Regions from separate parts of the Homo sapiens genome. Here regions 1, 2 and 3 are each linked to region 4. Evidence: fine-mapped expression QTL. A gene starts in region 4. Each other region holds a variant in brackets. All regions are shown on one strand. Distances are between the middles of the regions.

Evidence for each region. PIP is the estimated chance that this variant, and not a neighbour inherited with it, causes the effect.
Region 1: its variant is fine-mapped to the expression of SNX10-AS1 in substantia nigra (GTEx, PIP 0.96).
Region 2: its variant is fine-mapped to the expression of SNX10-AS1 in subcutaneous fat (GTEx, PIP above 0.99).
Region 3: its variant is fine-mapped to the expression of SNX10-AS1 in pancreas (GTEx, PIP above 0.99).

What each region holds. Positions count from the first base shown.
Region 1 is chr7:26,368,580-26,376,689 of GRCh38, reverse strand. SNX10 (sorting nexin 10) reads right to left here. Exons shown (of 7, transcript NM_013322.3): 6 at 4,657-4,869; 7 at 2,307-4,199. The coding sequence ends at 4,118. SNX10-AS1 (SNX10 antisense RNA 1) reads left to right here. Exons shown (of 2, transcript NR_136272.1): 2 at 4,122-4,671. Among named protein-coding and RNA genes, the nearest start is that of LINC02981, 26 kb to the left of the region's middle. RefSeq lists a silencer at 1-10. The variant AATTT/T (reference allele first, on the strand shown) is at 4,528.
Region 2 is chr7:26,353,565-26,361,674 of GRCh38, reverse strand. SNX10 (sorting nexin 10) reads right to left here. Exons shown (of 7, transcript NM_013322.3): 3 at 614-700. Among named protein-coding and RNA genes, the nearest start is that of LINC02981, 41 kb to the left of the region's middle. The variant G/T (reference allele first, on the strand shown) is at 4,056.
Region 3 is chr7:26,416,326-26,424,435 of GRCh38, reverse strand. All of the region lies in intron 1 of LINC02981 (long intergenic non-protein coding RNA 2981), which reads right to left. Among named protein-coding and RNA genes, the nearest start is that of SNX10-AS1, 21 kb to the right of the region's middle. RefSeq lists an enhancer at 8,104-8,110. The variant C/G (reference allele first, on the strand shown) is at 4,015.
Region 4 is chr7:26,396,205-26,404,314 of GRCh38, reverse strand. It overlaps SNX10-AS1 (SNX10 antisense RNA 1), which reads left to right and starts at 4,897. Exons shown (of 2, transcript NR_136272.1): 1 at 4,897-4,974. LINC02981 (long intergenic non-protein coding RNA 2981) reads right to left here and starts at 5,746. Exons shown (of 5, transcript NR_148502.1): 1 at 5,294-5,746. RefSeq lists silencers at 5,210-5,319, 5,410-5,869 and enhancers at 6,340-6,579, 5,654-6,610.

The DNA of each region.
Region 1 (8,110 bases), 28 kb after region 4:
CAACCCCCAGGCGGCAAGGCCCTCTCCACGCGCGCTCTCCAGCCTGGCGGGGCCCTGGAAGCCGGGACACGCGGAGGCCGGGAGGGTCATCGGCGTTTAAGGCAGCCTCCCACACCAAGTGCACCGCCCGGATCCCCTCTGCACGAGGGCTTTCTGCTTATTGCTCTTTTCCCCAGCAGCCAGAATCGTCACCGTAGCGCGGGAAGGGGCCTCGCGGGCCGTCTGCAGCAGGTGCGGCCGGGAGCCGCAGGCCCGCGCGGTAAATCGCTGTCTCTTTGCGGTCGTTGTTCCCATTCACCGCCCGCCGCCCCCCGCCCCACCACGGTTCTTTTTTTTCTTTCCGCCGCGCAGTTGCCATGGGTTACCAGGGCGGTTGCCATGGGTTACCGGACCGAGGCCGGCTGGCTCGCTACCTGCAGCCCAGTCGCCGCCGCCAGCGGAGCGGCCCGGGCGGGACGCGGCGGGAGCGCGCGTGTGCGGGACGCAGCGCGGGGGATGCGCGCGGGCCGCGGAGGCGCCGCAACCAACAGGCGGCCGAGGGTGCAGCCGCGGGAGCGCCACCGCCAGTGGGGTGGGGGGCAAAGCTATAAAGAAGGCCCAGAGGTAAGAAACTAGCAAAAACACAACCACAAGTTATGCCCGTGCTGTGCCTCTAGCAGCAAAGACAAGCGGTGTGGGGTTGGATGAATCTACACTTCTCGTCGGGGGAGAAAGGGTATTTTCCTCTTTAGCATAAGCCATTTACATAGTGTCTTTAGACCAGAGTTTAAATTCAGCAGGAAATTGTAGCTTAATGGTTTTTTTTCTCTTTTCCTCTATATCTTTTGAAAAGAAGTCTTTGGAATTTTGGAGAAAGAGAAAGGGTCATTAACTACCAGAGTTTGCGCAGCTAAAATAAATTAGTGTCCAATGCACTGCTCATGATCTAGAAAAGTTTGCAGTAGGAGTGAAGCGCAATTGTGTCTGCTAAAAAGGGACAATGGTGACTCGTTTGTAAGATGCATATGGCAAAGAATAGAACCAAAGTCCTTTGTATATATAGCAAATGTTAAAGAAATTGTTGCTTATTTACATCCTTCTGAAATTTTTGAACTCCACTCTATTAAAATTATTAATTTCTTATGACCTTTATTTGCAAAGAAAATTCTATGCTTTGAATGTCAAATTGCAGTAACTAATTTCAGACAGTATTTTGTATTTGAAAATGTGTTTATATATAATAAACTAAGAAAAGGTCTATATTCCAAACAAAAACACAAAATTGTACTGAAATTGTTTCCTTCATTGAAAAGATGTTGCCTTGTATTCACAGGATACCAGCTAAGTAATTTAAATATTAAGAGGAAGACTATTTAGAAACAGAATAAGCTTTGTTATTTTCGTTTAAAATGTTAAGGGGCCTCTAATGAAAAGGGGTTGTCTTTTATAGCTCAAATACTGAAAACCTTATTGGTATCACAGTAGCTCAATAATAATGAATCCTTAAGGCATCCAACAAATACAAACCAAATTCAAAACAACGTCCAGTTTACTGTTGGATATAACGGTTATTGTGGCCAGGCTAAATGAAGTTGTTTAACTTCTTAATTGTCATAAAAGAAACTTTGTTCTTTTACTTTATACTGCATATCACTTGTTTGTATTTAATTATTCAATAAAATGTGGACTAGGTTTGAAAAACTGGCAAGATACTTCATATCTTAAGGAATAGTATCTGCTTAAAAATAAATACTTGTTTGTCCCTAGTAATTTTTAAAACTTGAAATTTTAACTAGAATTAAGTAACTTTCTTCTAAGTGAGACTTTATAAGAAGCCGAAGTAACAGGTTGTTGACGTTCAGTGCTGTTGACACCTTTGGGTTATATATAAATCTAGTTCTACAACAAAACACGTAAGTTGGCTTTATAGGTGAATAGTTTACCCTTTAAGAATCAGCCAGGGAAAATGCAGTTTTGCTGTATTGTAATCATAAAGAATCCAGGATTAGAATTCTTTACATTTAAGTCACATTAAAAATAGTGTTAAATAAACATCTATTCAAGTTAGCTACATCAGTAATTATTTTCTTTTTCCTAAAGAAAGCTTTATAAAAAATATGCCAGAGAAAAATAAGAGACAAAGCAAGAAAACCACTGGGAACTGAAGTTCATCTAAATATCTCAGCTGCAAGAAATCAGTTTTAAGAAGCCAGTGTGTGGACATTGAAACAACTAAACCAAGGCTAAAAGCCTCAAATATGTACAACTATAGCTAATATTAAACCATGTTTTACCAAATTTCCTCATAAAAAATAAAAAACACTGAGTTTGGGTCTAAGGCAGAATATATTCTCTTGTATAAAATAAGTGATCCGGCAAAGTTGATTTTTTTTCACGTTTAATGTAAAAATGATCTCGTGACATTTACATACTAAGTATTAGGCATTACATAATATTAATTTTGATGGCTATGTTACATCATCTAAAAATAATATGACAATTGGTGGCATAGTATGTGTTTTTCAAAACTGCTGTAAAACAGAAATAGTGTGAACTCAAATACATATTGCTGAAGGGATGAGGATCGCTCTTAAATGCCTGGATGGCATGAACTTTACATATTAGCATGGTAAGAAATTACTAAATCTTTTCTTTTCCTGTATTAAAATAATGAGGATCTAAGACACATTAAATCAAAATATTTACAAAAATTTAATAATGTTTTAGACCAAAGAAAAAAAGGACAAATTAAAGAAATCATTCTTATTCTAAATTTAATTTTTTTAATGTTAGTTCTCAGTTTTCTTAGCTTTTTTTTCTGTTGGTTCTTTGAAACAAGCATTGTAAAGACTTTTTAATAATACAATAGCTTTTAAACTCTTAGTGAAAATGAAAAGGTTGCTTTTTGTAGTAGCCTCTGCCACTCTTCAATTAGGCTGGGTAACAAAGCAACAAGTTATCCTAGTTATCTGAAAATATCTTCCTGTTAGTTTCACAGAAATATTTTGTACCATTCAACATGGATGAAACTTGGGTAATTATCTCAAGAAAATGTTGCCTCATCTGAAATCTGAACTTCAAAATAGTTTATCTAAGATATCTTTGGGACACTAAAAAAAAAGACATTTTATGAAAATTATACCAATCTTCAAGTAGATGCTTTAAAAGGGGCTTTTTAAAAATGAATAATTATTTCTGAAATTAGCAAGTCGACATCCTTTTCTAAATTATGGGAATATTTATTGGTAAAATTAAATTTATTAATCTTTATAAAATCCTTCCTCTGATTTAAGTAATAAGTAACCACCACTGATACTGAAAGTTATCTAGTGATAAGAAATTGCACATTTAGTCAAAAAATAAATCATTAACCTGATTATACAATGATAATGAAAACAAATTATTTGTCTCCAGAAACCATTTGTTGAAGCTGATTTTGGATAATGAAAATGTATTTCTGAATCTATATATTACAGTTATAAGTAATATTACTAGCACTATCTATGTTTTTTCTAAGATGTAAACATTATTTTAATATGTCTCTATTCATAAGATACATTTCCATCTAAGCGTGAAACAGAATACTGGAAAGGTTAAATACTCTTAAAATATTTCAGTCTAACACCCAAAAGCATAGTGTTTTGCCAGTGCAGGGGAGGTATCCACAAAATATCAGGCACATATCTGAGAGAGGCAGTCTGGTCTACACTGTTACTCTTCATAGGGTTTAACAACATATACACCGTGTTTATGGTAACACTGCCCCACTGATACAAGAAGGAATGCTCTATCTTGATTTTAAATGCTACTTAGTTACCTATCTTTTTAAATTCAATAAAACCAACTCGGTTTTTTAAAACATGTAAGTCATTTCATTGGAGGGCAAGATCTTGTTTACCAATAATGTCTGCCTGTAAAGGATAGTATTGTATTCACAGGATTTTTAGCTTTACACAGAAGCTTACCTAAAATAAGACAACATAAAAATACCACTAATAAACAACCCAACATCTTTAAGAATTTAAATACCTAACATCATGACAGTGAGCTTTAGGTAAGAATGTATTATTATGAAGCTTTCTTCTCTATGACTGGACATAATTTGCTATTCCTAAGATAGTAACATTAGAATTATTTTTCAGGATTCCTGCGGAGCTGTATTTACTTTACATCCATGTGAACTGCTGTCATCACTACTGTGTCCAAGCCCAGAGGATGAACTGGAAAAGAAGAGAGGGGGAAAATAATAAAAAGAGGAAATTGGTTTTCACAACACACTCAAAGCCTGAGTAACAGAGGAGAACTTTAATTATCTCCAGTCACAAAGAGAGACAGGAAATTTGGACTTTTAATTAGCCATTTGGAGTGCAGTTGGGTATTTTTTTAGCTAGATAATTTAAACGCGAATAATTCAAGTCTGACTAAATGAAAGTCACATAATCAGAATGCAAATAATTGAATTTCTACTGCATTCATTAATTCAGTGTGGAGGTGTGTGTGAAGACTACTATGATGAGCTGTCACAGCTCAATAAAATCTCAGTCAATT[AATTT/T]TTTCATTATCTTAGTATTATATCAACAAAAAAGTGAAGTGTGTATATATATCTATACACGTGCATATGTGCATACTATGTATTATATAAATACATATACATTAAATCAAAATGCAAGGAAATACCTTTCTGAATCATAATCTATATCATTTTCTTTTTTTCCTTCTTCATCTTCTTCAGGGAAACGTCTATTCATTAAGGCAAACTTGTGAATTGCTTCTTCCACAGAGTACTTAGTCTGCCCAGAAACACACGCCTCAATGTCTTCTGAATTCAGATGGCTCTGTAAGAAGAGGTGAAGGCTGCTATCTGAAAGCAAAAGTGCATTCTGTAGGACTCTATATTAAAAAAAAAAGGAAAAATAATTGGTGAACAGGATGGTCAGTGATAGGGTAGAAGAAAGAAAAACATTAGAAAAGTACCACTGAAGGTAATTTCTCTACTGTGGTAAACTTTGTATCAATTATGGGCTCTGCCCATTAAGGGGAGGAAAGCATATGTTAACTTTTATTCAATTATTTGGAAATTTAGGTGGGTAAAAACATGAAGCTAATAGTTAAGAACATCTGTTAAAAGAATAACTTCAAGGACATTTCTTCAATTTACCCATCTCTTATTACCATGTGGATTAATTATGGAAATATTTTGCTTATATAGTCATAGAAAGTTATTCTACTTTAAAAAATTTACTGCCAACAGCATGTCAATTCAGTGATCTTTATGGGATAGGCTGTCATGAAACATCAAAACTTTCAACTACTATTAAAAATTATATGAAGAAAATACAATTCTCAGCATATTTTACATTTTAAAACTTTACAGTTATATACTTAAGGGCATGTTTACGACAGCTCATGAGAGAGATGGCTTTTTTTAATACTTAAGGTTAACTGTAAATTTCTCCAAAATCTTTAGGAGCACTGAATCTCTGTGTTGTCAAAATGAGCAACCAAATAAAATTGATCCCAGCCAACTTTACCATATATATAATTAAAATATGATAATTTTGTGATGAATACATACTGCTCTTCCCACATTTAAGATCAAAGTTTACAAAGACAGAACAGATTTCAACCAGGGCATCAGAACTACATGGAAGATTAAAAACTATCCTGTAGCAAAATCTACAGATGCTCAAATTCATATTAGTGAATGTGTTTTCTCTGAAATGCACATCTTAGAATATGAAATCAAATCAAAGTATACCTTTATATTTAAATAAAAACTGGTTTATCTTTTAGCAAAGATGTTGACATATGATCATTTAGTCTCTACTGATAGTTCAATAATTATGTAAGAGGAGACACTAAGACCAGATACAGGGGACAAAACTAACACACTAAAACCCAAGTAGAATTTTGTCCAACATAAGATTTTTCCGATATAACGATCTGTGAAAAATAGATCATGTATTTCAGACCAAATGAACCTTACCTTATATTCTGCTTGTTTAAACAAGTAATAAGGAAAGTAAATCTCTTTTGGCCATTAATATCAATTTAGTGAAAATCCAAGGTCATTATAATACCAAATCCTTTTCTACAAAATAAAACAATTATTTCTTAACAAAGGCAAAAATGCCTAAAAATGCACAGTATTAAAACCAAAATCTAGCTGTCCCCTTTGCTTCAGCAGGTTTACAGTTTGAGAAAATATTCTTTACTGGTCTATTAGAAGGAAAAGTAAAACCTTTGTGCTTTTTAAAAGGCAAAACCTCAAGCAAAGCAGCTAAATCCTTCTTTTTCCCTCTGTGTCCTCCGCCCTGGGTCCTCCCAAAAGATGACCATGTCACATGATAATGATTAATTTACCAAGTACAAGTAGCTAAGTAGTAAATCCCTCTTACTACTCTTTGAGATTTATTTTCTACATTTACAAATATTCACCATTCTTGTTTTTAAATACTTCAGATTAAGAGAAGAGTTATAGAGCAACAATCCATTAATACGAACTTGGATCGTGAAGTCTGTGAAGTCTGAGCAGAGTGTTTCCTGTGGCCTCTGTCAGCGGTTTCCTGCCTGCCATAAGTACAAGGAACTGTTCATGGGATTGTACTCGTGGCTTTGTTTCTGTTGGAAATGTGTTTTATTTTCTTTATAAAATAATGGGTAATCTTTAAAATTGATTTTAGATGGTTTGAGGCATTACACCACAACAGTAATGAGCACTAATGCCAATGATATTGGACACAAATTCATTTTAGCTTTATTTCATGTCTGAAGCAATTCTACTGAGCCTTGAACTGCTCACGTGTTGTTATTAACTTGCTAGTAACTTAACACATGGGTACAGCAAACAAAAGTGATCAGAGTCCAGGTTGATCGGGACCTCAAGGCTACTGTCCTTTTTCTTGAGCTATAATTCAATTTCCAATTTTACTGTACATTAGACTCATTATTTCCCAGCGTTTTCTTTTTCTGCTCAATACTGCCATCTGGAGGACACACAGATGAAAAGAGAAGGAGCCAGGCTCACCCAGCTCACAATTCCAAAGAGCCAGAAAGATGTGGCTGGGGAGGGGACATCTGAACACTCCCCCAGGCCTAGAGTTCAAACCAGTGAGTCGGCTAGGTACAGTTTTGGTTTTTGGAATCTCCTCTGTTTCTCTGGCTAAATTCATGCCACCATACTCCATGAGTTTTAAATAAGCAAAAATAATTTTTAAATGTATTTATATGCTTATTTTAGTCAGATAGTTCATTCTGAAATTTAAAATGAAAATTTTTGAGAGTGTTTTCCCATCTGGTTAGGTGAGCATAATTAATTTATTTTGAGTACTATTTGGCTTACTATCAGAGAGGGCTGTGACTGCCACCATCATAATATTAAATACTATTTTTTCCTTAGTCATGTTTGTGCCATATTTTCCACAAACAAATCTAATAGCCCAAAATCAATTTCAAACCTAATATAAAGAGTACTTTGTAAAACAGTCAATAAAATGTCATTTGTAGAAACCTCCATTTAAAAAGTATATGATTTTCAAACCTTTATAAAAGGAATAAAAAATAGCCTCTAGGATTTTAAAAGAATTTCTAGAAAGATATTTATAGTGCAAATCAGAAGTTATTCCTTTCCCCATAACAGTTTTAGACTAAACAAAGCAAAATCTGTTTTTTTTCCCTAAACTGGACACAGTTGAAAAGCACAGTTTTCCTCAACATGATTTTATTAGATGTATTATATGCTGGTTTAGCTGAGAATATATAGCTATGCAAAATCATTTCATCCTAACTAAGGATGTCCTGGGTCTGCTGAACCCAATACAATGATATATATACATAACTGCATAGTACATGGAAGGTTAGCAGTTTGATGTAGAAAAAAAAAATTAACTCAGCCTGTTTAGCTCTTACTATAAGAAAAAATAAAACCTACAAATCTTCATTGAAGACATTCATGATCTATGCTGTGGTGCCCTCTATTGAACACAAAGACATAAAAATCGTGTGTGTGTAAAACTAGCTGTCATGGTTCAACACTAGCCTTTTGTAAAAAATCTTTAATATTCCTTAATATTTGAAGAAATACAAAACCATGATACTAAAGTCTAAACTGTAGGGTAAATGTAGTTGTATT
Region 2 (8,110 bases), 43 kb after region 4:
CTTTACAGAGAAGTTTGCTTACCCTTGTTTAAGATGGTCACAGAAGGCCACACACCACACAACATTTTCAAGAGATTGTGATACAGTAGCATCCACGCAAGGCACATCATTTCTAGTTGCTTACTCGTTACATTAATTACTCAGATTCTAGATAAATTAATCACAATAATTGCACATATCCATTTCCCACCTTCTGATTCTATATATAAAACACCACACATCTCTTTTCCAAAGAACTCTATATCCTCTCAAACTTGAAGGTTATCAGGCATTATATTATCCAGAAATATGCTATAGCAGATCATAAGAAATGCCATTAATGAGCTATAAGTACTCTTTACCCATGCATTTTAGATGCGTGCACATCTTCACATGTGAAGGCAATAAACATTAAAATGTTAATATTAACAAAGGAACAATAAGGGATTCAAATAAGTAATTTTTCAACTTTAGGAACCATCTTACTAGTTCATGTAAGATAAAAGCATTAGTTGTAATCATTCAAATTCAGTTATTTGAATGAGAAAAACTTTTACAAGTGTCAACTTTATCCCATAAAATGTATCCCATAAAAGTCCCTCAAAATTACTATTTCTACTGACTACATACTTACATGAATACATATCTCATAGTCAATGTAAGAATGCCAGAAGTCCTCCTTCTGAATCCTAGGATCTCGAACCCAGACACTTACAAATTCCTGTAATGGCATCATAAACAAAGAAATATTCTTCAGAACTGCAAGTAGGACTGGAAAGAACTGAACAAAACGACTGCACTAAAACAAAACTGAAATGAGCTTTAACCAATGTGGTACTTGTAATCCTTTAAAAAACAAGAAGTAAAGTTAATGAATCAGGCACCACGAGCAAATCTAGAACACACTTTTGCCACATAATGGAATTTTTAAAATAATGCAACACTGAGGTGGGAGCACTTCTGGATAGTTTTACTGGTTATCTGAAGACAAAGTATACTGTAAAACTGATTTTTAATTTTTAATCTTAAATAATTGGTTCAGGTTTTTTTCAAATTTAAAAAGTGATCATTTCTTACTTTCTTCATCTCTCTAAACTGAAACAATGGGCCCTTCTGGGTAAGGTGCTTCCTAGGACACAAATAAGAAAGGCACCAGGCCAAGCAGGGTGGCTCACACCTGTAATCCCAGCACTTTGGAAGGATCTCTTGAGCCCAGGAGTTTGAGACCAGCCTAGGCAACATGGTGAAACCCCATCTCTACAAAAAATACAAAATTAGCCAGGCGCAGTGTGGTGCATGCCTGTAGTCCCAGCTACTCAGGAGGCTGAGGAGGGTGGATCACTTGAGCCCAGGAGGTCAAGGCTACAGTGAGCCTTGATTGTGCCACTGCACTCCAGCCTGGGCAAAAGAGCGAGACCCTGTATCAAAAGAAGAAAAAGAAAGGACACCAAAGCTCATGGGAAAAGTAAGCAAAGAGGGTTGAAGTTGACTTTGTGCATGCATCCCAGCCACATGAGAATAAGCGATAATAACTTATTAATAGAAAGAGGAACACCTTCTTTTACATAATACTTTTCTATTTTTAAAATACATTTCCCCTACATTAAATCATTTCATCTTCATAATACCTTTGTGTTATACATAGAAGTTAGGGATATTAAAAATCATATACAGTAGATAATTTTGTTCTTTTATAAAGATAATAAGAATAGAAAACATGGGGCAAAATTTAAAACAATAGGCCGGGCGCAGTGGCTTACGCCTGTAATCCCAGCACTTTGGGAGGCCGAGGCGGGCAGATCACAAGGTCAAGAGATTGAGCCCATCCTGGCCAACATGGTGAAACACTGTCTCTACTAAAACTACAAAAATCAGCTGGGCGTGGTGGCGTGTGCCTGTAGTCCCAGCTACTTGTGAGGCAGGAGAATCGCTTTAACTCAGGAAGCGGTGGTTGCAGTGAGCCGAGATCGCATCACTGCACTCCAGCCTGGCGACAGAGCAAGTCTCCGTCTCAAAAAAAAAAAAAATTAAAACAATACTTTTTAACAGGTGCTCTTTACTAAATAGGTTTAGTTTAAAAATTTGAAAATGTACAGCAAAAAACTATCATGTTTCACATAAGTTTTTAAGTATAACTTATTTACTCAGTGATCATAAACTTGCTAACTGAGTTTGATTTTAAATATTAGAGCTTTTTGATAAGATTGGGAGTTCAATGCTGGAATTCAGGCATTTCTTATTGCTTGTTGGGGCACATCTGAGAGGCAGGCTATGAACGCTTGAGAGCAGAAGAAAAAGAGAGATCGGGGGCTTTCTGGACAAAGCACCTCCATTGAATCATGCAGATAATTAAATGAGACTCTTCATCATAGAGGATTTTTTTTAATCAAAAAAATACACCACACTCTGAAAATAACTTTTGCCCCTATCAAGTTTCACCTTCTAGGGCAACACTTTGTCCTTGCACTGGAGACTTCTGTCCCACTACTTGTCTTTAGTAGACAGGGATTATGAATTACTGTTCCAAAAAGTCTTCTTTTAAAATATTTTCATTGTGTATTTTTAAAATCATTTAGGGGATAGAATAAGAACAAGATAGGCAGGGCTCACACCTGTAATCCCAGCACTTTGGGAGGCTGAGGCGGGTGGATCACCAGAGGTCGGGTGTTCGAGACCAGCCTGGCCAACATAGTGAAACCCCATCTCTACTAAAAATACAAAAATTAGCTGGGCATGGTGTTGGGCGCCTGTAATCTCAGCTACTCAGGAGGCTGAGGCAGGAAAATTGCTGGAACCCAGGAGGCGGAGGTTGCAGCAAGATCACGCCACTAAATGCACTCCAGCCCGGGCCAACAACAGCAAGACTTGGTCAAAAAAAAAAAAAAAAAAACACAAGATAACACTATAGTGATGCTCTTTGGCCATTATTTCTTTTCTTTTTTCTGTTTTTTGAGATAGGGTCTCACTCTGTCACCCAGACTGGAGTGCAGTGGTACGATCTCAGCTCACTGCAGCCTCAAACTCCAGGGCTAAAATGATCCTCCTACCTTAGCCAACCCCGCCCCCAGTAGCTGGACTACAGGCGGGTGCCACCATGCCCAGCTAATTTTTTAATTTTTTTAGAGATGGGGTCTTGCTATGTTGCCCAGGCTGATTCTGAACTCCTAGGCTCAAGCAACACCCCTGCCTCAGCCTCCCAAAGTGCTGGGATTATAGGCATGAGCCACTGTGCCCCAGCCAGTATTTCTTCTTCTCTATTTCTTTATTTTTTTCATGCGCATTAAGAGACAACCATCATTTCTTAAAAGCACATTCTAAATTATAAGAGGGATTTAAAAACCATTTTTAAACCAAATATCCATAATATCCCCTAATCACAGTGTGATAAAGCAGATTCTGCCCAGGGATGGAAACAGAAGCAAAAATCCAGGTACTCTGCTCTTGGCCTATGCTTTTCACCTCCATCTCTTGTCACCGTGTATGTGTGTGTGTCTCTTAAACTTTTAAATGCACACTCAAAATTCATTGCAGCACTAAGACTCCACATATTGTTTCAATCCTGAAAATCTTTAATTTGGTTGGAGTGCTAAATATCACTATTCTCTTGTGGATGGCAAACTTCTTCCCTCTCTGCATCCTGAAACGTTTCTGTGCCTGAGAGCCAACCCAGGCTGTTGTTCTTTGCACACTATTGCAATTCTAGGGTGACCTCATCCAAACACATTCAACCCCCTCCCATGAGCTGATGGACCCCACCCAAAGCTCCATCCCAGTGCAGGCACCTCTCCCATGGATCCAGCCTCTAGCCTGATCCACCTAGAAGTCCCTTGAGCACGCCATGTCCATACCCTTCCCACAGCATCCTGCTCCCCTTCTCAGTGAAGAGCATCTCCCACCAACCCCAGCTAGAAACCCAGTTCTCCTAGACCCCTCTGTTTGACTCATTCCCCAAATCCACACAGACCAAGTCCTTCATAGTCATTCTCCTTGGAACCACTGACAACTATTCCCTCTGCTACTGCCTTGGTTCAAGGACCTCTTGCCCAACATTAATGCAAGAACTGCTAATTTATTTC[G/T]GGGCCCATATCCAGTGCATTCCCCACATGAAGACAAGAATGGCTCCAAAACACGTATCTGATGATGTTGCTTTCCTTCTGAAAATCCTTCAAAGGTTGCCCCATAACCTTCAAGTTCAAACTCCTCAGCTAGCACAATACAGCCTTTCATGATTTTCACTCTGCTTATCTTCAAAGGCTAAGCATAGGTCCCCATAAGCAACATGCCACTTCACACTTCCATGCCTTTAACTAAGCTGTTCTCTGCCTGGATTGCTAGGCCACCCTACTGCCTTTTTTTTTTTTTTTTTTTAATCTTCTCTTTTCTTCTACTATTTTTTGCCAACTCCAATTCATTTTTCAAATGCAACTCGGTCACCACTTTTTCTGGGAACCCTTCTCAGATTCACCCAGTATGACTTATTTGACCCTCCTCTGGGCCCCTAATGTCTCTGGGATTGCCTTGGGCATAGTCCCTACTCACCACATCCTACTGTGCTGTATTGTAATTACCTGTAGGCCTCCTCTAGCAGACGCTAAGCTCCTGTAGGGCAGCTTAGGCTGTCTTGTAAGACTTGAATGCCTCATACATCCAATGCCTTCCATTAGTATCATTTAATGAATAAATAAATGCCTGTAGGAATAAACAAACTGCCTTCAGGAAAGGAAAATCAAACTTCACTTGAAATTAAAACCTCATCTACTTGGGTTCTTGGGCTCCATGAATTAATGATAAGTTATTTAGCAGCTGGTCTAAGTTTATCTTAATTTAACAAACCCCTTCCTCTAAGGATGTGCCAATTAACAGCATAAGGATCCAAGAGCAATGTTTAAGATCTGGGAGAACAAACTGTTTTCTAGCACCCTAAAGAACTCCAGAAGCACCTATTTACATAGAAATAATTGAAAATCCTTCTGATAGCTTCAGTAACTTAGTCCCCTAAGACTTGTACCAGGCAACAATTTGTTGGCCTAGTGGGAGTTAAAATATGTACTTGAAAGTAATAAAAGTACATTTATTTTAAAATATTCTATAATTCACATGGGTCTCCTCCTCCCCCACTCTGCAATTAGTAGGAATTAGTGAAGTTTCCCCATACTCTCAGCTACAAATAGCACACCCAGGAAGCCAAGGTTCACCTCTAATCTCTTAATTAGACGCATCCCTCACGACACTGCCCGCCATCCTTCAAAGGAATGTTGACAGGCTGTCAGCCACAGAGGACAGTTCCACAGCCCCTTACCTAGAATCATATGGATTTCCTAGGAAAATTGCTTCAGCAGCTGCAGTTAGTCAATTTAATAACCTTATTAAACACTTTAATGACTTCTTGGGCCTAATGACTATATGTAGTATGAGAAAGCCAGGCAGAGTGGAATTAAAAATTTAGACTAACTGTCCCTGCTGTTCTCCATGTGAAAACAGACTTCTAAAGAAAGACTCCTAGACTCTTTGAAGATCTAATTCCTGTGTTATCCTATAATAATCAGCCTTTGATTTCAATGTTCCCTGTTTTTCCCCCATCCCCACACCCCAGGTTTGACCATTATCCACTTCTACCCTATCATTTTTTTCCTTAGCCCTTAAGTGAGATGAAACTAATAATAAAAATAACTGTATTGTATTATACCAGGGCACTTGACATGTGGCAGGCATTATACCGTTTCACAAATGTTTTCTTCAATCTTTACAACAACCCTCAGAGCTCAGTATATTCTCATCCTACTTTACAGATTTTTTAAATGAGGCTTCTAAAGCTTAAGCAACTGGCCCAAAGTCAAATGACCAGCCTGAGCTAAGTTTCAAACTCAGATCTGCCTTGTTCCAAAGACTGTACTCTCAAACATGTTCTATCTCGTGATTCTTTTACTAATAATAAATATTAGGCAATTTCCAATTTCACTGTAATTGTATTGTTTTGGAGGGGGAAGTTTTTTCTGCTTTTATTAGCTAAAATGCCAGTTCAGACAACATGCTCTTCTCAAACTCTGTCCTTCTGGCTTCTTAAAGCTTTGTATTTCATTTTTGTATTTCTAGCACCAAGCATGGTACTAGCACATAGTAAGTGCATATTAAATGTTTCAGAATTAACCAACTGATTGACAAGATTTTTTAAAAAGCAGAGGTCCTCTATGCTGAAAATCTAAGATGCTATTGAAAGGAATCAAAGCAGAGACACACTATGTTCATAAATTGGAAGACGCAACATAGTAAAGAGAGAAATTCTCCCCAAATTGATCTGTAGGTTTAACACAATTCCTATAAAAAATCTCAGCAAGACTTTTTTTGAAGACATAGATGGGCTTATTCTAAAATTTATATGGAAAGGGAAATGTCTTAGAATAGCCAAAAAATTTTTGAAAAAGAATAAAGTGGGAGGAAGCCTTCTTCCCAATGTTAAGGCTACAGCAGCAAGACAATGGAGTCCTAGAGAGGGATAGACACAGAAGATCAGTGAAAGAGAACAGAAAACCCAGAGGGAGACCTACACAAATACGCCCACCTGATTTTTGACAAAGGTGCAAAAACAATTCAAAGGAGAAGGAAAAGCCTCTCAACAAATGATTATGGAACAACTGGACATCCACAGGCCAAGAGATGAACCTCAACCTAAAGCGTGCACCTTATACAAAAATCAACACCAACCAAACCACAGATGTAAATGTCAAACACAAAACATCAGAGAAAACTTTTAGAAAAACTTTTAGAAAAAAAAAAAATCAAAGAAAATCTTTCGGCCTAGGACTAGGAGAAGAGTTCTTCAACTTATCTCAAAAGGGCAATCCACATAAGGAAAAAGTGATCAATTAGGCTTCACCAAACTAAAAATCTTTGCTTTGCAAAAGATGCCGTGAATAAGGTTAAAAGGGCAAATTAAAGATTGAAGAAATATTTGCAAACTACACATCCCATAAAGGACTTGCATCTAGAATATATTTTAAAAAAAAACAAAACTATCAGACGGGTGAGGTGGCTCTCTCCTGTAATCCCAGCACTTTGGGAGGCCAAGGTGGGAGGATCACTTGAGCTCAGGAGTTCAAGACCAGCCTGGGAAACATGGTGAAACATTTAAAAACTAATTAAACAAACATTTAAACAAACATTTAAAAACTAATTAAAAATTAGCTGAGTGTACTGGCTCACACTTGTAGTCCCAGCTACTCAGGAAGCTGAGGTGGGAGGATTGCTTGAGCCTGGTGGGTGGGTGGGAGGTTGCAGTGAGCTGAGATCACACCACTGCACTCCAGCCTCAACAAGAGAGACCCTGTCTCAAAACACTCATTCACTTACTCTTATTTAAAAAATAGAATTCAATTAGAAAACAAGCAAAAGATATGAAGAGACATTTCACCCAAATAGGGCATACAGATGGCAAACAAGCACGTAGAAAGATGTTCGACATCGTTAACCACTAGGGAAATACAATTAACCCTACAATGATATATCATACATACCTATTACAGTTTCCAGGGGGATTATCACTATTTTTTATTTTAGCCATTGTGATAGGTGTGTTTTTTAAAATTTTCCATCATAGCTTAGTTTGAATCTTTGTAGCACAGTAAAGATGAGTAGGTGTTAACTGTAAAAATATTTACTTAGATTACAGAAAGATCACAAAAGACGAAAGCTAATAAAGCAGAATGTCTAGGTGTTAAGTGAATACTAATTTTTCATAGCTTTGATGAGAATTTTCTAACATAAAAATGTAAACTTGTCTCAGTTTGTTCTTTTTCTTGGGACATTTTTTTTCCTATTTCAAAGTAGTGTTTTACATGTTCATGTATTTACACTGGAGACTCATTCATTCACTTAAAATATATTGTGCAACAACAATGCGCTAGGTACTTTTCCATACAACTAATGATTATAGAATTTACCAGTGTGGGCTGGGCGTGGTGGCTCAAGCCTATAATCCCAGCACTTTGGGAGGCCAAGGCAGGCAGATTACCTGAGGTGAGGAGTTTGAGAACAGCCTGGCCAACATGGTGAAACCCCGTCTCTGCTAAAAATACAAAAATTAGCCAGGTGTGGTGGCACACACTTGTAATCCCAGCTACTCGGGAGGCTGAGG
Region 3 (8,110 bases), 20 kb before region 4:
AAGGACAGAAAACCAAACACTGCATGTTCTCACTCATAGGTGGGAATTGAACAATGAGAACACTTGGACAAAGGGCAGGGAATATTACACACTGGGGCCTGTTGTGGGGTGGGGCGAGGGGGAAGGCATAGCATTAGGAGATATACCTAATGTAAATGACCAGTTAATGGGTGCAGCACACCAACATGACACATGTATACATACGTAAAAACCTGTACGTTGTGCACATGTACCCTAGAACTTAAAGTATAATAAAAAATTTTAAAAAAATAAAAATTAAAAAAATTTAAAATTAAAAAAGAAAAAGAGAGAGTTCATCAAAGGCAGGAGTGGCTGGGAAGCCTTTCTGCAGTGAGTGAGTTTCAGGAAGGCTTCCTGCAGCAGGTGAGCTCCAGGTGAGCCCTGACAGCCAACCAGGGTTGAGTGGAGTGGAGGGCAACCAGGACACTGAGAAGTTGTGGTAATGGTTAGAAATGGTACGGGACTTGAGGGACAATGAGAAAAATGACAATGTCTAGTGGAGAGAAATGTTGGAGAGTCCAGGGAAATTAGACTGGGTCAGATTATGAAGGACTCAGAATTTTATCTCTGTTCAACAGATGCCTTTTGACAATTTATACTATTTGGGGCCACTCACTGCAGTGGATAGACCATAAGTAAGATACTCTCTCTACTTCAAGACACTAGTTGTCTGGAACAGAGGACTAAGTCTCTTGAGAATTAACTATTTACAGCCACCAGTGTAAATAGGAACTGAGCTGAGGAACCTCCTGGGGAAAAACCAAACAAACAAGTCAATCAACTTGAACTTTGTTTTCATAGCTGTTGGTCAGACAATTGCATACATGTCTCAAGGCACCAGAAGCCAGGTTGTGAGAGAGATGAGAGATGGTAGGAGAGAGTTCGCCATGTGGCATGGGGTCTGGCAGGACAAGCCACTCTTTGCAGAGGGCCTGAGAGCCAGACATGAGTGGTGATCTTGGAAAACTGGCAGGCCTGGTACCTGGAGCACCTGCCTCAGCTAAGCTGATGGTGTCTACATACCTGTGTAGGAACTGAGGGGGGGGTCTCAAAACAATTCTATAACACCTCAGTGTGCAAAATAGTGTTCTAAGACCCCACTCGTACTGTGGAGGGAGCATTCTCACTTTGGGAGACCACCAAGCAGTCATAGCCCTCATGAAACTGAATCAGATCAGTCGGGGCAAGCCAATCTTTCAATATCTGCACTTAAGCAAGGAAAGAGGGCCCAGAAAGCAGGCCAGAGAGAGGCAACATAGGCCAGAAGTATTATGCTAGATTAGATACATCCACAAACAAATGTACTGCATCCCCACCGCCCTGACTTTTGGGCTTGGTCAAGTGAATTGCTTGGACTAACAGGATGTTAGCAGGCAGGACGCAAGCTTAGGCTACAATGTGCTTGTGTAGTGGCGCCTGCCCTCTTGAGTTTCTGTTCTCACCTTGAGAAGACTGTGTCCCAGTTAGATCCTTGATCTGAGAAAGAGCAGACCCAGACCTGCAGGATGAAGCAGAGCCGACCCTGGCCAGCCTGCAGATGCATGAGAATAACTAACATAGTATATAATTCACACAAACTGGGAATCCAAGTCACACAAACTGGAATCCCACATTCCACAAACTGGGATTGTCTCCGCCTGCCTTACTGAATGCACTTATCAATAAAGAAGTTATTCACAATAAGAAACTGTGAAGAAGGACCCCACACAAAGAAAAGTTGTTTTGTTTTGTTTTTCCATCAAAAGCTATGGTTTACTCAAGCTTTGGCCAAAATCAAGCATAACTGTGTAAGATAAAAAGTTCAAATTAACCCAGACTACAGGCTTGGTTCTGCAGTAGAAGCTTCTGGAGCTTATGCAGTATTTTTTCTTTCAGTGCATCTTTCCCTTTGTTTAACTTTTTATCTTGAAATAACTTTAAGAAAGTTGCAAAAATAGTACAGACAGTTCTGTATTCCTTCACCCAGCTTCTCCCAAAGCTCATATCTTACACAATCATAGTTTCTGTATTAGGCCATTTTTGCATTGCTATTAAAAAAATACTCGAGGGTGGAAGCGGTGGCTCACGCCTGTAATCCCAACACTTCGGGAGGCTCAGGCAGGTGAATCACCTGAGGTCAGGAATTCGAGACCAGCCTGGTCAACATGGTGAAACCACATCTCTACTAAAAATACAAAAATTAGCCTGGCGTGGTGGTACGCGCCTGTAGTCCCAGTTACTCGGGAGGCTGAGGCAGAAGAATCACTTGAACCCAGGAGGCAGAGGTTGCAGTGAGCTGAGATTGGGCCATTGCACTCCAGTCTGGGCAACAAGAGTGAAACTCCATCTCAAAAAAAAAAAAAAAAAAAAAAATACTTGAGACTGGGTAATTTATAAAGAAAAGAGGTTTAATTGGCTCACAGTTCTGCAGGTTTTGCCGGAAGCATGGTGCTGGCATCTGCTTCTGGTGAGGCCTCAGGAAGTTTAAAATCATGGCGGAGTGCAGCAGGGAGCCAGCATGTCACATGGCGAGAGTGGGAGCATGAAAAAAAGAAGACCAATGTCCCAGAGTCTTTTAAACAACCAGATCTCTCATGAATTAATTGAACAAGAACCTACTCATCATCCGGGGGATGGTGCTAAGTCACTCACGAGGGATCCCCTCCCATGAGCCAATCGCCTCCCACCAGACCCCACCTCCAATACTGGGAATCATATTTCAACATGAGATTTGGAGGGGCCAAAGCATCCTGACTATATGAGTATCATTACCAAAGCCAGGAATTTAACTGGTACAGTACTACTGACTAAGCCTCAGACTTCATTTGCATTTCACCAGTTTTTCTACTAACTTCTTTCATCCAGCTTCCTACTAACTTCCTTTTTCTGTTGTAGGATTCAATCCAGAATCCCACACTATTTTGTCTCTTTAGTCTCTTCCAGTCTGTACCAGGTCTTTAGTCTTCCTTGACGTTTATGACCTTGACACTTTGAAAGAGTACTGGCCAGTTAGTGTGTAGAACAGGTTTGTCTGCTGTTTATTCATGACTAGAGTGAGATTATACATTTTTAGTAAGAACGCCACAAAAATGACGTGTGCCCTTCTCAGTGCATCGTGTCTGGGGAAGGGGCCGGGGGTCTGGGGGACACCATCTGGTTACTAGTGAAGTTAACCTTGATCACTTGGTTAAGGGGCTATCTGTTGGGTTTCACCATTGTAATGGTAGTGTTTTTGTTTTGTAATTAATACATATCTTGGGAAAGATACTTTGAAGCTATGCAAATATCCTGTTTCTCCTCAAACCTTCACCACTGATTTTAGCATTCAATGGTGGAATTTGCCTGCAACAATTATTACTGTGGCATCTGTCTAATAGTAGCTCACACATCTGAACCTAGAGGGAAGCAGCTAATGAGCCATCCCTTCGCTTCACAACCCCAACCTAACCAATAATGAGATGTGAACTAGTGCAAAGGGGTAAGAAATGTCCAGTTCCTGAAACTAAGGAGTCTTAGCCACTGTTTCTGGGCTGCTTTGCGGGGTTGAGTGAACAGCAGTTGACAGATTTTGCTTAGAAGGCAAAGAGGAGAACAGCTGGGGAGCACAACCAACTTCCATGCTAATCAAGGTGAATAAAGCCATGACGTAGAACAGAAAACCACAGGACTCTGTTTAACACAACGAGGGATTCAACTTTTTCAGCCAACTACCTTGTTTTCCATTTGTAATTAGAGTCACAAAGCAATAGCCTCCTCCTGTGCTACCCCACAAGCAGAGCCCCAGACAACATCCTCATTTTCAATAACTCTTCCCCTTTATCTCACTCTGCCTGATGCTTAATAAGCTATTTACTTTGGACCAACAGCTAATCTGTTAATAACTGATTTTAAATTTTTACAGTCATTTGTCTCTGGCAGGACCTGGGACCACGAAAAGCAGTCCTTTCCTACCTGATGAATTGGCTTTTTCTTTAGCAAAAAAAAGAAAGAAGAAAAGAAAAGAGAAAAATTTAA[C/G]TCAAAAGTCTTCATGGTTGCATTCTGCTGACAATTGGCATTCAATAAGAAATTTCAATGCAAAAAAAGAAATGGTAATGCTTCCTGTGAAATTTATCTGCCTGTGAAATCGTCAGCAAATAATATAAGTGGACGTTTTTCTAATGGTGGCATGGGGTAAAGACCCTCTTCAATATGAAGTAAAGTGTAATTGTACTATAAATTTACAGAGCCTAAAATTCTTAATTAACAAAATTGATGCTCATTGCCTGACTGGAATGGGATATCTAAACTAATGCCATTACAGCCCTTTAAAATGATCTAAATTGCATACCATATGATATATGTATTTTTGTAGGCTATATGCAGAAAAGTGAATTTTGCTTTCCATTAAAAAAAAAGACAATTGAATCGACAATGGTTATTGTAATTGGTATCACACAGCAGTGCTCTGCAATTTAATCACTGCTTCTAAAAATGGAACCGTGGATAACTACTGTGTTCTGAAAAGTGGCGGCCACCCCGTGCATGAGAGTGCTGTGCGCATTTATAAACACCGCCTCTTCCACGAAGTTAAGCTTTCCTAAGAGATGCCATCTCTAATTTTGTAAATAAGAATGACCCCCCAAGGCTAGCATTCCCATCAAATATTTATTAAAACGCACCCCAAGACCTCTCATCTCAAACTGGAATTAAACTCCTCCAAATGTCTCTGAAAGATGAGCGTGATTTAAAACGTGAACCAGCACACTGACGAAGTGAAAAAGAGGGACTCTGGGCAAAGTGGTATTTTGGTATCCGTAAGTGGTGTCAGGTCTTCCTGGAGAGCTAGTATTATAAATTAACAGATGAGACATTGTGCAGAGCCTCTAAAAGGAAAGGCTAAACTGTTTGAAGGATAAAAGCCCTAATCTTATTAATATTTTAGATCCTGCAAGACATTGAGGCTCCATCTGCTGTCAGTAATACCTGAGAAAGAATCAAGGCAGCTGGAGGACAGAAACCACGGCCTCCCAATGGTCTGCTGACCTTCTTGAGAGGCAGATATCATGTGACAGCAATTGCCTGTCTCAGCAGACATGCTGGAAACAGGAGAAAGTGTTAAATATAACCAGGTAGACAGTGATGAATTGACATGCTGAAAAATCGAACGCTTCAGTAATCAGCCTAAGGATCTGATATCAACAACATTTTTCAGTTTTGTCCAAATTCATTGAAAGGTGTACTTTAGCAAGTTCACTTCTCATTGGTAAGACCTTTCATCTTTATGCTGCTTTTCTGATTGGATTCAGTGTCATGATCGGTTTGGGTGGCTCTGTGCGCAGAAAGCAGACGGGCTGCTTGTGAGAGAAGGAGGGCTGGGATGAGCACAAATAAAAATGGGTTTTACCCCAACATTAATTTTAAAACTATTAAATATCTATCAAAATGCTTATTTAGAAAGAATTATTGAAGCCATGGTATATGAAAATGCATCAGGTACTGTGCTCCAACAGCACAGTAAACCTGAAATATTGAAATATTACCCTCTATTTTGCAGCAAGAAGCTTCTATAACTATAATTCTAATTACAGAACTCTAATTAATGTCTATGTGGCTTCAGATAACTTCATTAAATCTTTAGAATATTTATATTCTCCAAAGACAATCTCTATCCGTTAGAATAAAAAAATCCTATAAAATAACTTTTTTTAAACGCTGCTGATACGCCTTTCTTTTTATGAGACATGTAAGTCATAAAATTTACTTTAAGGTTTCATTCATCTCTGTAACAGTATTCCAAAAATGTGTTAACTCAAAAACACTTTTTTTCCTGGTACAAATGTATAATACAGCTATCAGCTGAGATCACTCTCTGCTTTGAGGTTTAAACAAAAACTGGCTGAAGCCTCCTTCCCACATCCTGTGAAGGGCCAATGTCTTCCCCTAGATGTCTGAGAATTCCTGACAGCTTATATTCTCATGGTCACTTCCCTATCTCCAGTGGCTTCTTTTGGCTGGATTCTTGACCTCACTTGTGTCTCGTCTCCCATAGCTGCCCCATGCCAACCTAGATTTTGAATGTAACCCCTTTTACTTGATTTATCCCTCCACCCCCAGAAAACCCCTCAGTTCTCGTGAAGCACAGTCTTTCCATCTGCTTAAGGCTCTCATTAGGTCCCAGGGTCTGCCGCCATCTTGCCTTCTCACTCACTTCAACCCTCTCCTCTCTTATTTCTCCTCTGCTCTCCACCCGCCCCCAAATTCCTGTAAACATCTTCCACAGAGTAGTGTGCTCTCTCTCAGTCTAGCTCCAGACTGTCCAGGCTATCTCCTGAGGGCCTTATCTTCATAGCCAAATGCTTCCGTTAAGGTGGCAGGCAGTCTCCTCCCTGAAAGGAATTGTTGGCTGGCTCGTAAAGTAACACCATTTTCCTCTAGGCTCCCCATATATTACAAGCAAGATCTGACTCATTCCTGCAAATACTCAGGAAAAGAAACACAAAGGACAACTGATTTTGTGATAAGCACTATAGGAAAGCATGGAAAGTCTACAACAGATAGGAATATAAAGTCAGAAATTGGGTGCACTATAACTTGAGGCCAGGGCTTTGAAAGGATCCTGCTTTCAAATTCGCCCTGGTTGGGGTCAATAAAAGGATTGATTCATAGAAATGCCAGAGAGCCATGTTAAGCTGGTCATGAGCCTTCATCCTGATGTCTTCCTAGGAGTAAGCTCCTGGCTTTTCCCAGAAAGTTCAGTGTAGGGGCTCCATCAATAGTAGAACATAAATTGAGACAATGCCCTACTACTTGCATGGGTAGAAAAAATTCCAGGAACTGACAGCAAGTAAGTTGCTTTCCCTTCACTCCCAGCTTGAATATAGGAGATAAAAAAAAGTACCTCTCCAATATCCATACGATTCACACTGCTCAGAACTATGTGGATAATAACACAACATGTGACACACACCTACATTAGAAGAACAGCCTTAGAGTGTTAAAGCCTGGAATCCATCAACACAAATAGAGTGTGACTCGATTCATTAGCAAACTCAGACACAACCGGACCTCTATGGGGATAATTCATGCAGAAGAATTGTATTTTAAAATGTCTAAATAGGTTGCTATTTAGTGCAATTTTTTCCAGCTCTTAAAGCAAAGAAATGACAATTTCTAAACAAATGATAGAAGTTAAGTCAACTAAGTTCAAGCCTAAACAAACATTTTTATCTTAGTTCAATGCTATAAGTGTATATTCAATGTCTGTTATGTTTAACACAGTGGGAGGCAGAAGTGAGAATGCCCTTCAGTATACATTGAAATAAAACCATTGCAAACTGCCTCAGAAGGAATTGAGTAGTTAATTAATAAGCTTTTATTTAAATGTTGCAACCCATAAAACAATTCCTCTGCTACAATATGGCTGCTGTATTAGAGGCAAGCTGGGCAAAACTTCCCTGGGCATTGAAAAAAATGTTGCATTTCTAGGGACCTGGAAAGAAAGTGACTTGTCACAGGCTTTTTTGGGTTTTTTTGGGTTTTCTTGAGATGGAGTCTCACACTGTCACCCAGGCTAGAGTGCAGTGGTGCGATCTTGGCTAACTGCAACCTCTGCCTCCCAGGCTCACACCATTCTCCTGCCTCAGCCTCCCGAGTAGCTGGGACTACAGGCGCCCGCCACCACACCCGGCTAATTTTTTTATATTTTTTAGTAGAGACAGGGTTTCACCGTGTTAGCCAGGATGCTCTCGATCCTTGTGATCCACCCGCCTCAGCCTCCCAAAGTGCTGGGATTGAAGGCATGAGCCACCGTGCCCGGCCAACTTGCCACACACTTAATCATAATTGACTAAACAATTCCTTTGAATCATAACATGTATGATTCAATTTATTTATATCAAATTTATATATATGATATGTTATTAAAATAGTAAACATTTTTATAATATAATAAATACCAACCATGTTATATTACGGTACTGTCCACTGTTTCAGGAACTTAATGTATACTAATTCAAGTACTTATCACAACAACACTATAAGGTAGGTACTACTATTATTCCCATTTACAGATGGGAAACTGAGGCATGGAGAGATAGTATCTTACCCAAGGTTTACACAAATAACCACTGGC
Region 4 (8,110 bases):
ATCACTGTCCCCAGCACTGGACTCTCACCATAAAGCTATGCAGAGAAATCGGCGGGAAATTCACTGTCACACATTAGAAGTGTCTTCCACGATAAAACGTTAGCCTGGAGTGGGAAACTAAGCACACATACTGTTAGTCGGTGTGTAAGATGATCAGCTTGGCAATATATATCAACATTTTTAATGTACGTCTTTTTAGCTCCATTTCCACTGCTAAAAATTTATTTTATGAACATACTTGCACAAATTTTCAAATGTGACTTATAAGGATATTCACTGCAGTAATGATTGAAATAGCATACATCTAAACATTGTTATATCCATACCCTGGAATTCCATGCAGTTATTTAAAAGGACGCCACAGATCTAAATGTGCTAAGAAGGAGTAAAGTTCAATAGACATGCATCACTTAATGATGGGGATACTTTCTGACAGAGGTGTCGTTAGGTGATTTCATCATTGTGCAAACATCATAGAGTATACTTACACAAACTTAGATCATAGAGCCTACTACACACCTAGGCGAGATGGTGTAGCCTATTGCTCCTAGACTACAGACCTGTACAGCATGGTACTGTACTGAATACTGTAGCAATTGTAATACAATGATGAGTATTTGTGTATCTAAACATAGGAGATGTACAGTAAAAATACAGTATAAAAGATAAAAAATGCACTTTGGGAGGCCGAGGCTGGCAGATCATGAGGTCAGGAGATAAACACCATCCTGGCTAACATGGTGAAACCCCGTTTCTACTAAAAACACAAAAAATTAGCTGGGCATGGTTGCACGCACCTGTAGTCCCAGCTACTCAGGAAGCTGAGGCAGGAAAATCGCTTGAACCTGGGAGGCAGAAGTTGCAGGGAGCCAAGATCGCACCACTGTACTCCAGCCTGGGCGACAGAGCGAGACTCCACCTCAAAAAAAAAAAAAAGATTAAAAATGGTACACCTGTATAAAGCACTTACCATGAATGGAACTTTCAGGACTGAAAGTGTCTCTGAGTAAGTCAGTGAATGAGTAGACAGCGAATGTGAAGACCTAGGACATTACTGCACATTACTATAGACTTTATAAGCTCTATACTCTAGCCAGGAATGGTGATGCACGTCTGTAATCCCAGCTACTCAAGAGGCTGAGGCAGGAGGATCACTTGAGCCCAGGAGTTCTAATCCAGCCTGGGTAACATAGAAAGACCCCATCTCAAAAAAATAAAAAGTGAAAATAATAAATAAACTCTGTATACTTAGGCCACACTAAATTTATTAATTATTTTCTTTCTTCAATAATAAACTTAGCTTACTATAACTTTTTACTTTATAAAATTTTTAATTTTTTTAACCTTTTGATTCTTTTGTAATAATACGTACCTTAAAACACAGATTGTATAGCTGTACAAAATTATTTAATTCCTTTTTATCCTTATTTATATCAGCTGTTCTCTATTTTTAAAATTTTTATTTTTTATTGTTTTTAATTTTTAAATATTTTGTTGAAAACTAAGACACAAACAGATACATTAGCCTAGGCCTACACAGGATCAGGATCATTAATATCACTGTCTTCCATCCCCACATCTTGTCCCATTGTAAGGTCATCAGTGCATAGAACTGCCATCTCATTTTTTTTTTTTTTTTTTTTTTGCTCTTATCACCCAGGCTGGAGTGCAATGGCATGATCTCCACTCACCGCAACCTCTGCCTCCTGGGTTCAAGCGATTCTTCTGCCTCAGCCTCCCAAGTAGCTGGGATTACAGGTGCCTGCCACCACACCCAGCTAATTTTTGTATTTTTAGTAGAGATAGAGTTTCACCATGTTGGCCAGGCTGGTCTCGAACTCCTGACCTCAGGTCATCCACCCACCTTGACATCTCAAAGTGCTGGGATTACAGGTGTGAGCCACCGTGCCCACCCCCATCTCCTCTATTAAAATTCCTTCTTCTAGAATCCTTCTGAAGGACCTGCCTGTGGCTGTTTTATAGTTAACTTTTATACATATATGTGTGTATAAATATGTGTGTATGCATGTGTAGAAAGTAGTCTAAAATAATAATAAATAGTATAGTAAATGCATAAACTAGTAACAGTTGTTTATTGTTATTATCTAGGATTATGTACTTGATAATGTGGCATACTGTGGTATGTGGTATACTTTTAAATAACTGGCAACGCAGTAGGTTTGTTTACACTGACACCACCACAAGCACACAACTAATGTGTTGCATTAAGATGTTACAAGGGCTAAGACATCACCAGGCGATAGGAATTTTTCAGCTCCACGGTAATCTTACAGGGCCACTATCGTATATGCAGTCCATTGCTGATCAAAACATCATTATGGGGCACATGACTGTATTATTAATTGAAAATATAAGATGTTGAAGATTAACATTCAGCATTAACCCATTTGTGTAAACAAAGAGTAGATATACAGTCATGCACCACATAATGACATTTCGGTCAACAATGGACCAAATATACAACAGTGGACCCATAAGATTAATATGGAGCTGAAAAATTCCTATAGCCTAGTGGCAATATAGCCATCACAATGTTGTAGAGCAATTACCTTTTTAAATATAAATTTAGTGTAGCCTAAGTGTACGGTGTTTATAAAGCCTACACTAGTATACACAATGTCCTAGACCCTCACATTTACTCGCCACTCACTCCACTCACCCGAGCAACTTCTAGACCTGCAAACTCCATTCATGGTAAGTGCCCTATACAGTTGTATTTTTTCTTTTTTTACCATTTATACTGTATTTTTGCTGTACCTTTTCTACATTTAGATACATAAGTACTCACCATTGTGTTACAGTTGCCTACAGTGTTGTTTTTTTTTTTTTGAGATGGAGTCTTGCTGTGTTGCCCAGGCTGGAGTGCAGTGGCATGATCTCTGCTCACTGCAAACTTTACCTCCCAGATTCAAGTGATTCTCCTGCTTCAGCCTCCTGAGTAGCTGGAACTACACGTGTATGCCATCAAGCCCAGCTAATTTTGGGGTTTTTAGTAAAAACAGGGTTTCACCATGTTAGCCAGGCTGGTCTTGAAGGCCAGCCTTGGCCTCCCAAAGTGCAGGGATTTACAGGCGTGAGCCACAGTGCCTGGCCAATTGCCTTCAGTATTCTGTTACAGTACCATGCTGTACAGGTTTGTAGCCTAGGAGCAATAGGCTATACCATATAGCCTAGGTGGGTAGTAGGCTACACCATCTAGGTTTGTATAAGTACATTCTCTGATATTCGTGCAATGATGAAATCGCCTAACGATGCATTTCTCAGAACATATTCCCATCATTAAGAGATGCATGACTGTATATATTTGCATGTGTTTTTAAGTTACTGGAAGAATATACAAAAATATTAATAGTGCTTGTAACAGTGAATGGTATAGAAAGAAGGAAGGAAGGAGTGGGAGGATTCTGTTTTTTATTTCATACACTTCTACAGTGTTTGAATTATTTTTATTGAATATGTTACTTTCATTATTTTTAAAAACATCTTCTTCCCACCTTCTCATCTTGTCTATTTCAGCCTAGCCAACTAGGTTTTCTCAGGACTGAGGTTATTTATTCCATATTAACTCTGTCTCAAGCTCATATGCATCTCCCACGATTATTTTTCCCAAAACACTTTAGGTTTAAGAATGACCTTTCCTAGGTCTTTAGCTTATGATTAACCAAATGAAACCATCACTAGATGGACTCCCTAATTCAGGTGTTGAATTACAAAAATGAATTTTCAGGGGGAAAAAAATGCTAACTCAATTATGTTAGTTAAAATATCAGTAAAATTAGCAATGCCACAGTGTCATGAAGCAGAAGGTCAAAGACCCACACACCCTTTACTGGGCGCCATGGTGGGACTTAACTGGGGCAGTTCCGGTTCTGCCATTAGGACCATGAGCACTCCAATCTCAGTGAAATTGTATAAGACACTGCCATTATCCCCGGATCATTGCCACGATAGACCCAAACAACTCCAGTCTATCGTGTCAATGTGTATTTGGGGAGTCTTTAACACACGGATCATTGGCGAGCTGCACCATAAAAGCCCTGTAGGAGCCGTGGCCGTGTGTGGAATCAATGCACACTCGGGGACTTCCCCACGCCCGGATCATTTGCAGCGCATCGTGTCAATGCATACTCCGGGAGCCCCTACTCCGAAGCCTGTGAGTGCTGAGGAACAGTGTACACCAAAAATACTTATGGAATAGTTGTTACAGTGCGTACACAGTATTCACTTTTCTAAATGGCATGTCAGCAAGTTTAGTGTGCCACAAATAACTCCTAAAAGGCACAAAACACTCCTAGAGGCCCACCTTCACACATGAATGGTTGGTCCATGGAATTGTGGCATGGCTGTGGGGGAGTGTAAGTTTTTCTTTACAGTGAACAAAGGGAAAAGAAAGAGACATCTGCTATTCAGTGTTGTCAGGGTTTTCAGCATAATCCCAAACACCTCCTAATTATTTTCCTGGGCATTTGATCCCTAAGATACAAGGACCTTCCCTCCATCCCTGCCCTGTTCCAAAGTACCTGTAGAGCAAGCTGAGAGGGCAGAGTTAGAGGATGGGTGGGGTTGGGTCTTAAGTGCGATCCCACAGAGATATAATGTGAACCACATGTGTAAATTTAAATGTTCTTTGTGGCCACATTTTTAAAAAAAGATTTAATTCATGATACTTTATTTCACCCCATATACCCAAAATATTATCATTTCAATATGCAATCAATGTTTTTAAATGATGAATGAGCCAGTTCACATTCTTTTTTCCATACAGTCTTCTTTACAATGGGGTGTGTATTTCCCACTTGGAGAACATCCTGGTCTGGCCTGGCCACACTGCAAGCCCTCGGCAGCCTCTTGTGGTCAGTGGCTGCCCCAGTGAGCAGCACAGCTACAGAGGTTCAGGAAAACCAACCCCAGGAGCGTGGATGTTCACTGCCTTCCTTCAACCACTCCAGGCAGGTGCGTCCACCTTTCCTCCTCATTGCCTCACCAGGGCTGCAACTGCCGAACAGCCTTTTCTCGGCAGCCTGACAGAATAGCTGTGTGTTGGGTTTCTGCAATCATAAAAAATGACCACAAATATGCATTCGGAAAGAGGAACGAAAACTCCTCTAGGCCCAAACGGTAATGGCAGTACTAGGTCATCTTTCTTGGAGACGGAGGTGAAGGGAGGGCAAGGGGCCCCTGGGGAAGGAAAGAGGAGGCGGGCGTGGCGTCGAGCGCGAGGGCGGCGGCCTAGCTGCACCCGCGAACTTCCCCACACCTGCGACCAGCTCACCTCGCGGCGTGAGGGATCCCTGGCAGTCGGACGCGGCAGGGTGGCTGGTTTCTGGGGCTGAGTCTGGCCCGACACAAAAGAGGAGGGAAAGGAGAAGGAGACGGAAACAAAGGCGCGGGGGAGGACGAGGAGGCGCGCGCGGTCGCGGGGCAAAGCGGCGATGCGGTGCGGGCGCGCGCAGCCTGGGGCTCCCGGGACCAGCGGGCGGGAGCAGGCGGAGCGGGCAGGGCGATTTGAATATCAGGCTCTGCCACACTCGGGGCGCCGCTGACAACTTCATTACCTCCGCATATAAAAATGACTGCCGGGGAATGCAAATAGCTCGCCTGTCTCAGCCGCCTGCCCTCGTTCCGCCGCCGGCTGCAGGCGGAGGCCCCGGGAGCCGCGGCGGCCGGAGGCGCAGACGCGCCCTGTCCAACATAATGAACTGCCCGGCCGCGGCTCCGCCCACCCCCCAGCCGCCGAGCCGGGCCGGGAGGGGGAGCCGGCCCGGTGCTGGAGGAGGAAGGGGTGGGCGGCCGGGCGCGGCTCAGAGGCCGCGCGTTGCTAGTCAGTGTCGGCGCAGGCCCTGCCTCTTGACTCTGTCATCCAATTACTGCCATGAAAATACCAGGAAACTAGAGTGCTCAGTGGGTTCCACTCGTGACCGCGAACTCTGACGGAAAAGCGGGACCCCCGGCCTCCGTCCCGTGCGCCCTGGTGGTTAAATTGGACGCCAGCATCCCGGCGCCCCGCTCTCGTCTCGCCTGCAAGCGGGCGGCGGGTGTGCTGCGCCCTGCTCCCCAGGCCTGCGGCCACCGGGACAAGGCTGCGTCGCTGTGCAGGACCCGCCTCCCGAACCCTGGGCCTTGCTGAGCTCCCCGTGTGGCCACCGAGGCAAGCCGCGTGCGGGAGGGAACGCAGGCTTCACGGCGCCTCTCTTCTTGCCCTGGCTTGCTCCCTGGCAAGAAGTCACCTCCCGCCTTCTGATAGCTCCCCCTGTCACATTTGGGCCCCTTGTGAACTTCTCGAGGAGAGGAGCTAGGTCACTTTTATTAATAGCAACAACGACAGTAGTAAACATATGCTGAGGACTATTCTACGCAAGGTACTATGCCAACTGCTTTACCTACATGTTTATCACAGCGATCTTATTGCACTCCTGGAAACCCAGGCTTAGCAAAGCCTTGAAAGGTTCCCAGCATAACCCAGCTAAGGTGGGAGGGAGCACAGGTGAGAACCCAGGCCCCTCTACACTCTCAATCACTCTGCAGTATTTTCCGGGTCCTTCTTACAGCTCACACAACTGTCCAGCACTCCTTTGTCCCCCGAACGCATCACCCCCAGCCATCTTAGGCCGGGCCAGCCCCCCGCCCCCACCCTCACCCCCTCCCTCACCCCCTCCCTCACCCCCTCCCTCACCCCCTCCCTCTCCTTGGCCCAGAAGTAAATCCTAAGTAGTCTAAATCCGTTATGACCAACCCCTTCCCTTGCCCAGGCACTGGCTTAGAAAAGAGCATGTGACCAGTCCTGGCCAAGGCCAAGCCAGGGGACATCTGTTGGGGTTTTCTGGGAAATGCTTCCTTGCCCTAAAAAAAGACACCTCTAGCGATTCCAGTTTCTTCTGTTGTAGAATGTATATCCACCACCTGGCAACCACGGAGGAGCCAGGGAACAAAGTTAGTCTTTGCAGAGATTTACAGGATTAAGTGAGCTAACTCCAGGGTTAAAGTTTAGGAGAATCATGTTTTAGTCCTATCTCTACCTGCGATGGAGTCATGCTGCCTCGTGTTTATTCAGGGACATATTTAAAGTTAACTCCTTTTTGAAACGAGACAAGATAAAAAGATGTAAACAAAGGAAAACTCCAGAAATTTGGTCTTGTCTCCATTAAAGAGTGTCTGTTTCTAGGCACTTCAGTGGAACCTCTCACTTCCAGCTTCTCTTCCTGGGCACTCACCTCTAACTCATTCAGCTTTTTTCCCTCAAAGTAGCTCTTTGCCTACACAGGCAAGGCATCTCTTCCCTCCAGGAACATCAGAACCCCCCTTCTAACCCTCCTGCACCCACACACCCAGGCGTCTGAGCTTGACTGCCTTTGAAATGTTTACTGGCCTTCAAGTAGTCTCTTTGAAGAATTTGCATCTAATTTTGAACTTAGGGAAAATCGGGCATAACCAGTCACTTACTAGTTTCCTTGGCAACTACTTTAAAACAGAATCTAAATTGGAATGAAAATGGATTTTTATGGTTTCACTAAAATCATACACACTTTTCATGAAAATATACCAAAAAAACTATAAAAAATATATACATACTATATGCTTTATTCGTTTATCTGGAATCAATACACAGTAACTAACTCAAATATCTCTGTTCCCCACTGCTGAGGAAAGGCACTCCACACTCCCTTAGCAAGACATTTAAGACCCTCCACAATCTGCACCTAACCCAGCTCCAGCCTTATTTGTCTACTACAGTACATCCCCAAATCATGCTATTGCATTTCCTCTCCCATGACATTCTCTAGAATGCCCTTGAACTTCATGTCCAACTGTTCAAATATCACCGATCTTTCCAAGTCCAGATTAAATATCACCTCTTCCAAGAAGCTTTTCCCATTCCTCACATATAATGACACAAATTGAGTTACTTAGTGTTTATTTTCAGCAATATTTAGCATATTTTATTTACTGATACCCAGTATTGTTAAAATAATGCACATTTCCTAACAGTTGGGGGGCTTCAATATTACCATGCAAACAATTAAAATGAGTAATAAATATTATCAGCAGAATTGTATAAATCTTACTCCCAACTTAAGGCTGAGCTGTTCTG